Linked DNA regions of Homo sapiens: region 2 is linked to region 1. Evidence: fine-mapped expression QTL. A gene starts in region 1. The other region holds a variant in brackets. All regions are shown on one strand. Distances are between the middles of the regions.

Region 1 (4,388 bases):
GTGGTGGCTCACACCCGTAATCCTACCACTTTGGGAGGCCGAGTGGGGTGGATCACCTGAGGTCAGGAGTTCGAGATCAGACTGGCCAATATGGTGAAACCCCGTCTCTACTAAAAATACAAAAATTAGCCCGACCCAGTGGCACGCGCCTATAATCCCAGCTACTCGGGAGGCTGAGGCAGGAGAATCGCTTGAACCCGCGAGGTGGAGGTTGCAGTGAGCCGAGATCGCGCCACTGCACTCCAGCCTGGGCGACACAGAGAGACTCCATCTCCAAAAACAAAACAAAACAAAACAAAACAAAAAAACAAAAAACCCCACAAAAGCTGCCAAGCTCCATTTCGGCTGGAGGTCAAAGAAGAGTTCAAGGGAAAAGATGAAAAAAATGGCTTCTCTCCATCTGTGGGCATGTCTGTAATTGCCACCCCATCTCTGCATGTCTCCTCCCAGGAACACTAAAGCACCATCTTCTAGGCGTGGAGACATCTGACAATGGAAGTCTAGAAAGCTTCCTAAACCACCTGCTCTGGACACAGCTGCCTTCAAAGACGGACTGCAAATGGATGCTGGCCGGTAGCTTCAGTTACCAGTGATTACTTGGTGTGAATCTACCTGTGCTATTACCTTAGCAAATTTTAAGTCTTTAGTTTGGGCATTAAATGTTTCAGTTACTTGTACATACTTCACATCCTTTTAATGTTTTCATGGACTCGTACTGTTTACTGTTTCTCTCACTACTTCAGTCTAGCAATGCAAGGAACATTTAAAGTTTGCCTGGGTTTGGGGTTTTTTGGCTTTTTTATTCTTGATTCTGCTACTAGTTGTGCGACCTTGGGCAAATTTGTTTCAGTTCCCTCATCTGTAAAATGGGTAATAATAATAATTGGCTCATAAGGTTGTCCTGAAGATTGAATAACTTGAGATATGTTCAGTGCGTAGAACAGTGTCTGGCACATAGGCAAAAGCAATCACAAATGTGGGCAATTATAATTGCTGAGCACCTAACTTTTCCCAGGTATTGTGCTACTCAGTCTGTCCCCGAATCTACGTCACACAAAATATCTTGGCATTGAGAAATAATTTTGATAGAATAAAATGAATCCTTAATTCTTCTTGATTAACTTGGAAATGGCCAAGATGCACACCTGGACTTTCGGTCTCACACAAGAGTTGTTTCATTACCTCCCTATTTTAACAGTGAGCGTCGAGCTACCAGCAGCTAAAAAGGAAATGGAGATTTCGTCTTTGCTCCCAAAGAACTATTTAAAGCTTTAGTAGTTGTGTCATCTGTAATAAAAGACGTAATGCTGACTCAAGGAGTTAATGAGAAATAAGACAACGCCTTCCAGTGGACAAGTAGCCAATAAATGTTAGTTTTTCTTCGTACCAGGAATCCAAACATTCCAGGTATGAAGCCAGATTAGGTGGCTTCACGACTGTGGACTCGCAGTCTGCCCTTGAGGAATTTCTTATTGAAGAAGAAAAAGAGGGGGGACACGGGGCCCAGACCCCCAGCACCCGGCTTTCGAGCAGGCTCCACGGGTCCGGGTCCGGGTCCGTTTTCCCTTTCGCCAGCTGGGGCCCCGTTCGAACCTCTCCCAACTACAACGCGGAGGCTCCGACGCCCCGGCCCCAGCTTTGTTTTGCCTCCGGGAGCCGCGCGCCACCGGGGACCCGCGGGGAGCCGTTCTCACTCCGAAGCTGTCTGCTCACCTGCAAATCGGAGACAGCGCCCTTTCACTTACGATCCTTATAAAAGACGCTTATAAAACATTTTATTCAGTGTTACATTAAAAAGACGTTTATGAAAGCAATTTATAAAGCCCTAGTGGGAGACCGAGATTGGTGTTAATGTAACTGGAGTAAGGGCTGCTCCGATTGCTGCAGAAATTCGACATTAGCCTTCACCGCACCTGCGGAGCAGCGGGAGCCAGGTGAGCAGCAATTTCCCCTCAGGGACTTCCTCCGCGTTCTCCGCATTTTCTGTCGGCGGAACTGAATCCCAACAGTAGAAAAACGTGGCTCCGCCCATCACCTTTCCTTTAAAGGACGCGGGGTGAAGCCCCGCCCACTACGGAGAGCGAAGGGGACTCGCCGCAGATCCGCTGTACTTGCGTCCGCTACAGTATGTCAATCGCTTGCCCCAGCACAGGTAATGCTAAATATGAGGCGTGCGGAGCGGTGCGCGGACCGGCATCGGGAGGGCGTGGCCTTAGGGGGCGCCCCTGTGGAGGAGGCACCCGGAAGGTCAGGGCTACCCCGTCCCGCCGGTACCGAGGGCGGAGAGGCTCCGCAGGTCCTGCTGCGGAGTCGGAGGGTTCTGCCGGGCTGTAAAGCCATTTTCAGCGAGGCCGCTGCACGAACTTCCGAGGGATGTTAGACCTAGAGTTGCCGCCAGCCCCACTGAGCTTTTCTAGTTCCGTCCCGACATGCGCGCCCTCGTTTGTGCGCACGCACGCACGCAGTACGTCGCTACGTCCCGTCTCTAGCCCTGGCGCTCCGCCGGTCCCGTTCTGCAGGTGGGCGTCGCCGCCGACTTACCAACAACCGGGTCGGGGGCTCCCGGAAGTGCTCTTGCGGCTTACTGCCTGGCACAGGTGGGGCAGAGCGAGCCAGGCGAAGGGCGCCTGCGCAGGACATGCTGGACAAATGCGTTGTTCTTGCTGCCTGCTGTTGCGGGAGGAGGCCTTATGGGGGAAGGTCGCGAAGTGACTGGGATTTTTTTTCTCATTTGTCATTTAGTGGGCTCCGTGGCTTAAGACTTGAACCAAGTAAACGAAGTTCTCTTACTGAGAAGTCTCAGTTTCAAGTACGTGTTGTGAAAGGCCTAAGTCTTAGAAAAGTAGAGGATGGAGAGAAGAATCTGAAAATCGACTACTATTCATTCTGTCAGGCACAACACAGTAACGAATAAGTCCATTTTGTTCCTGCTTCGTAGAGTTTACGGTCTAGTGATGGAGAACAGCAGTGCTAAGATCATCACAAAACTGTAATTGTAATGAATGTTTTAAAGGAAAGGTCAACTGGACTGTAGAAGCATTCAGTGTTAAGCTCAGTAAATTGGGGGAGGGATGGGAGAACTGGCTTAGTTTGGAAGGTAATCAGAAGAATGCGCTAAGGATCTGGCGTTTCCTAAACCAAGGACGAGAGTACTGTATTTCAAAAACCGAATGGCCAGTGTGGCCTAGGCATAAAGAAGAAACTGGAGAGGTGGGAAGGGCCTTTTGGCCTGGCGAAGGTGTAGATCTTTAATCTCGGGGCAGTTTTATTTAAGGTGAGGAAGGTCCTGGGTGTAGTGACCGCAGTGCAGTGGGAACTGGTTGCCAGGGCTCAAGCCGAGTTAGGAGACTGGCAGGAATCCAAACGAGGTGGTCGATGTTTTAAACTGACGGTGGTGACAGTGGATACGGAGAGGACTGGATGGATTCGAGTGGGGTTTAGGAAATGAAGTCGATGAGGCTTGGTGTTGGGTTGACTGGGAAAGTGGAGGCGTCAAAGGTGTCTTGGAGGTGACTGGAGGTTGTGGATGGGTAGTGATCCCATCACTAGAGTTCTGGAAGAAGACTAACATAGGATTAACATAGGAGAATAAGTTAAAAAAAAATTTTTTTTGAGAGTCTCACCCTGTTGCCTAGGCTGGATGCTTAGGCTGGAGTGCGGTGCACGATCTCAGCTCATTGCAACCTCTGCTTCCCGGGTTCAAGTGATTCTCCTGCCTCAGCCTCCCAAGTAGCTGGGAATACAGGCTCACGCCACCAGGCCCGGCTAGTTTTTTTGTATTTTTAGTAGAGATGGGGTTTCACCATGTCGGCCAGGCTGGTCTTGAACTTCTGACCTCAAGTGATCTGCCTTCCTCAGCCTCCCCAAAGTGCTGGGATTACAGGCGTGAGCCACCGTGCCCGGCCGTAAGTCCAGTTTTTAATACAGAGTCTTTAGCTCTGGGTTTAAAAGCTTTTTAAAACATATGGTTATTATTTCAATTTAATAGCTAAAGAAATAAGGTTAAATAGTTGGCCAAAGATATAATGTTGGCTTTTTCCAGTGTTCTAAATGGGAGTTCTAGCACGTAAACAGCTCAGCCTCATTATGGAGAGTACACTTTGTGCTCCCTATGGAAGAGCAAAACCAGAGCCAAGGGAGGGGAGCATGAAGGCCCAGTAACGGTAGCGCAGGCCCTCTGGGATTAAGGCTGCACTGCTCAGGCCAGAATGGGGCAACTGGGACAGTTTGCAGGCAGAAGCAAGGACTTTATGAAACTTCTTTGGAAGGTGTAAAAGAGTTCTTAGAGTCATGAGAATTGGCAAAATTAATTTCACAAATATTTAGTCCGCTAGAATCTATGCAACTTTGATCCAATCTCCCAGGAAAGAACAGATAACAGTATGAGC
Region 2 (4,388 bases), 29 kb before region 1:
AAACTATACATATGTATGATCCCTTTGTATTACATTTACCTATCAAAAATAGGACCATCTGAGGAACTGGAAATAAATGTAAACATGAGGCTAAATGAGGTTTATGAGAGATAAACAGATTATCTCTCATCTGTTTATCTCTCGTTGTCAGGTATGGGTGGGTTTATTTTGTCCTACTCCGTTTGCCCCAGGTAGCCTTTTTTTCTATCATGACTACAACTTCAATGCTGAGGGAGCCCCCAAATGCCCCAAGTTATCTTCACAGTTGAGGGTGGAGGTGTGGGTGGGAGGAGGCCTCCCTCCTGTTTCATTTCTTTAATTCCTGCCTTGGCTCATAAAATAGGATCTTCTATGTACATTTGTACCACTCAGGGAAATATAAAGGGAGCTTTGGATGCCTCACCTCTTTTTTCACTCCTTGTCCTAATCTGTTTTCTGTTGCTTATAACAGAATACCTGAAGCTGGGTAATTTATAAAGAAAAAAAATTTCTTTTTTACAGTCATGAAGGTTTAGAAGGTCAAGGTCGAGGGGCTGCATCTGGTGAGGGCCTTCCTGCTGGTGGGGATTCTCTGCAGAATCCCCAGGCAGTGCAGGGCATCACATGTGAGGGGCTGAGCAAGCTCACATGCTAGTTCAGGTCTCTCTTCCACTTCCTGTAAAGCAGTCAGTCCTATTATCATAACTCATTAATTCACTAGTCCACGAATAGATTAATCCATTCATGAGGGTAGAGCCCTCTCATGATCCAGTCATCTCGTGAAGGCCCCACCTCTCAATACTGCCCCTTTGAGGATTAAATTTCAACATGAATTTTGGATGGGATGGACATTCAAAGCATAGCAGTCCCCTACAAGGGAGAGATAGTAATCTAATTAGCAAGACCTTCTGTCTATTGGACCACAGTGGCAGAGGTAAGATCACTGTGCCCAAAAAGCAACTCCAGCCCCAGCCCTCCTCTCCTATTCCTTGGGTCTATATGCTCTTGGGGACGCCCCTCCTGAGTTAGAGGATTTCCCCTTCCTGCTTCTCGGCCTGCTGACATTCAGGACTTTCAGTTGGTGACTTTGGGAAAGGGAGAAGAAAGCCCCTACCTTGCCCAGGGGCAGACTAGTTTTCATATGAGCTTCAGTTATAAAGCTGATCCTCTCTGGCCCCTGAAGTTGTTCTCAGTTTGGTGGAACTTGGAAGCAAGGGCTGAGAGGGACTGCCATTCTGAAACTTCAGTTCCCTCATTTATGAAAATGACTACGAGGTCGTTTTTAACTAATGTAATATTTTCATCTTTGTGATCTGGCACAAAGATGATATAGACTAGGAAAAAATTACCTGGCATGATTCAAGTGCATCCTGCTAACAGGCAGGGGAGTAGGGTGGGAGGGAAAGGGACAAGCTGGCAGCTCCCAGGCTCTTTGACCCAATGATAGGTGGTGTCCAGTCTGTAGCTTCCCTGCCCTCAGACCTGTTACTCCTCCTTCCCCTGCCCTGCTTGGTATCACAGTGGGATTCAGGGGCAGCTGCTGCCAGCTGGGTTTGGCATGGGAGGTGCTGGTAGAAGACGAGAGGAAGGAAGGGAGAAACCAGGACATTCCTTCCCTCCCTCTGTGGTTTCTTTAGCCGTGGGTTTACCAGAAACGATCAGTCCAAGTGCATGGAGTGGCTTCCTGCTGGTACTAATCTCTCAGTGGCTTCATGGTCCCTGTTGGCCTCTTAGCTCTTCCTTCATTTATGAAGCCAATTCTTAAATTTATTTTCCTCATTTTAAATATTTGGAGATATTTTCATTTTCCTGGTTGGACCTTGACTGCTAATATCTGCTATGATCTGAATGTGTCCCTCAAAATCCATATGTTGGAAACTTAATCTC[G/T]ATGCAACAGTGTTGGGAGGTGTTTGGGTCACAAGGGCTCTGCTCTTTTGAATAGATTAATACTGTTTTAAAAGGGCTTGACAGCAGAAGTTGGATTCTTTTTCACTCTTCCGTCTTCTGCCACGTGAGGACTCAGCAAGAAGGCCCTTGCCAGATGACAGTGTCTTGATCTTGGACTACTCAGCCTCCAGAGCTGTGAGAAAAAAGTTTATGTTCTTAAGTATTCTGGTATAGCAGCACAAAATAGACTAAGACAGTATTAGTTTGATTATGGCCTTAAAGCCTGGGCATGGAGGTATTCCATCTGCTGGATTGAGGGCTGCTCAGGGCTGAGTGTCAGAACTAGGAGATGGCAGAAGAAGAGGCTGTGTGTATGTGTGTGTCCCAGATAAACACCAGTAAGAAAGCCATGGCATTGGTAAGATCATCCTGCATGGCCAAGCTCCTCTCCTCTTCCATGTCACCACTCTATCTTTCCCTCAACCTGGAATATTAATGTCATGTTCTATTTCTCCAATGCCTTGCTCTAAGCTAGCTGTTAATTAATTCCTCTGAAAAATTTGCCTGATGACTACTTAAGAATTAATCAGTTTCCAGGGTATTTTTATAGAGGAAAAAACATTAAAAGATTTTATTTTATAGAAGAAACAAAATAAAAGGTTACTCTTGTAACCTTTTTTGATTACAAGAGTAATATAGGCTTCTATAGACATTTTGAAAGAAAAAATAAAAAATAAACTAAAAACCAATGATAATCCCAGCCACTCAGAAGAAGCTTTCTTAACATTATGATGTATCAGTATGAAGTCTTTTTTTAAATTGCATATATGCACAAGCCTGTGTGTGTGTTTGTGGGTGTGTCAGGGTTGGTTGTATTCATAGCTAAGATTATATCATATATGGTTCTGTACCCTGTTTTATCACATAAGAATCAAAGGCTCTTTGAAGTCAGAAAGTCCCCCTACCTCCCACCCCAAAACATGAAATTAATTCAGCCTAACAACATCGAGTGGGTTCTCTCCTATGTTTCCCTACGAAGTGCTGGTACAAAGGAAGAATGAATTGGAAACACGCCGACATCACCATATACAGACCCCAGAAGAACGATCTTGTGTGTTTGTGTGCACAAATCAAGTGAGAAACTGTAAAAAGGTGCCATTGGGAGGAAGTGGTCAGTAGCAGAATAGGACTGTGGGGTGCCCACCCCATCCACCTGACCCTACCTGGCAAAGCAATGAAGCATGCTCTCCCAGAAAGGGTGGTGTAGAAACCCCCACTTCAGCCCCCTCCTACACAGAATAACTTCTCCATCCAGAGGAGATGTGTCCTCAGTAATAAGTGTCTTTTGCAAAGAACGCATCCGCTGCACAATTTATTCTTAGGTTCTACCTAGTATCTGGCCCGTCTCATAGATAACAAGCATAGTATCGTGTACTGTGTGCATACAGGTAGAATTCACAATTTCCTTGAGATTTTGGGGCTTCTGAATCCAGGAGTAGATCATCTCAGCTTTATTTTGTTCTTCACTAAAAAATAAAGCATTTTGGATGTGGCTATGGCATACAGTAATATATAGCAGGCAGAGGAGACACGAATAAAGACTACCGCCTTAACAAAGACGCTGGTATCACCCCTCTTTCTGTTGAGCTCCGTTTGACTGTGAAATGTTTAAAGGAGAGAGGCTAGGGTGATGGCTCAGGAGATATTATGTTAATGAAAAGCAGGATAAATGCGCAAATGATTTGCATAGAAGGAACCTGATCTAGCTGATATTTGAAGAGGAAGTCCTGGGGGAGGTGCCCCACGTAATGGGCCTTTCTTTGTCAGCCCTGGATCTGAAAGAAGTGTCTGAGCCTAGAAAAACAAGTTCACAGTTTCCGTCTCACCCAGTGAATGCTTGCAAGACTCCACACCAGTGTTTCCAATCAGAGCAATGATTCTGCAATTGTGTGTGTACTTGTACTAATGTTTGCTCTAGTAATGACTAATAATGGCGGGGGCACTGCCCCTGGAGGCCGGTGACGGGGCCAGCTGCCCGTGTGTGCAGATGTTCGTGGTTCTGAGCTCAGCCTGCTCAGGACAGTGTAGGAAAAAAGGGATTCCTGAACCACCGTGATCTTACACAGTCATATTGAGGCTTTCTCCTGCTGGGTGTCATTCCAGTTGTAGTTCTAGGGAGAATTTCACCCCTGCCCCAAGCCCTTGCTCCTGTATCCACAGCTAACACCAGGGCTTATGGCTCAGGACAAGGTCAGGTGGTGGTAATGCTGATGGAGCTGAGGTAGGGCATTCAGGCCTTGCCAAGAGGGTTTCTGGACCTTATAAGGTACCCAAGGCCCCAGACCCTTTCCACCATTCTTCTCTCCAAGGGAAATGCTGCTTTACGTGTCAGCCAATACAATTCAGGGTAATTATGGGAGCAAATGTGTTCTCACCCATATCTCCCTTCAGACTAGATTTAGGGTAAGAGAAAAGAAGGGCGGTGATGTTGCTGAGTGTCTACTATATGCTGGGTGCTGTGC

The links. PIP is the estimated chance that this variant, and not a neighbour inherited with it, causes the effect.
Region 2: its variant is fine-mapped to the expression of MTIF3 in lung (TOPMed, PIP above 0.99). The same link has a PIP of 0.9 or more in tibial nerve.

What each region holds. Positions count from the first base shown.
Region 1 is chr13:27,448,273-27,452,660 of GRCh38, reverse strand. MTIF3 (mitochondrial translational initiation factor 3) reads left to right here and starts at 2,097. Exons shown (of 5, transcript NM_152912.5): 1 at 2,097-2,152. RefSeq lists enhancers at 1,663-1,722, 1,743-2,102, 1,946-2,860.
Region 2 is chr13:27,476,854-27,481,241 of GRCh38, reverse strand. No RefSeq gene overlaps it. Among named protein-coding and RNA genes, the nearest start is that of MTIF3, 28 kb to the right of the region's middle. The variant G/T (reference allele first, on the strand shown) is at 1,867.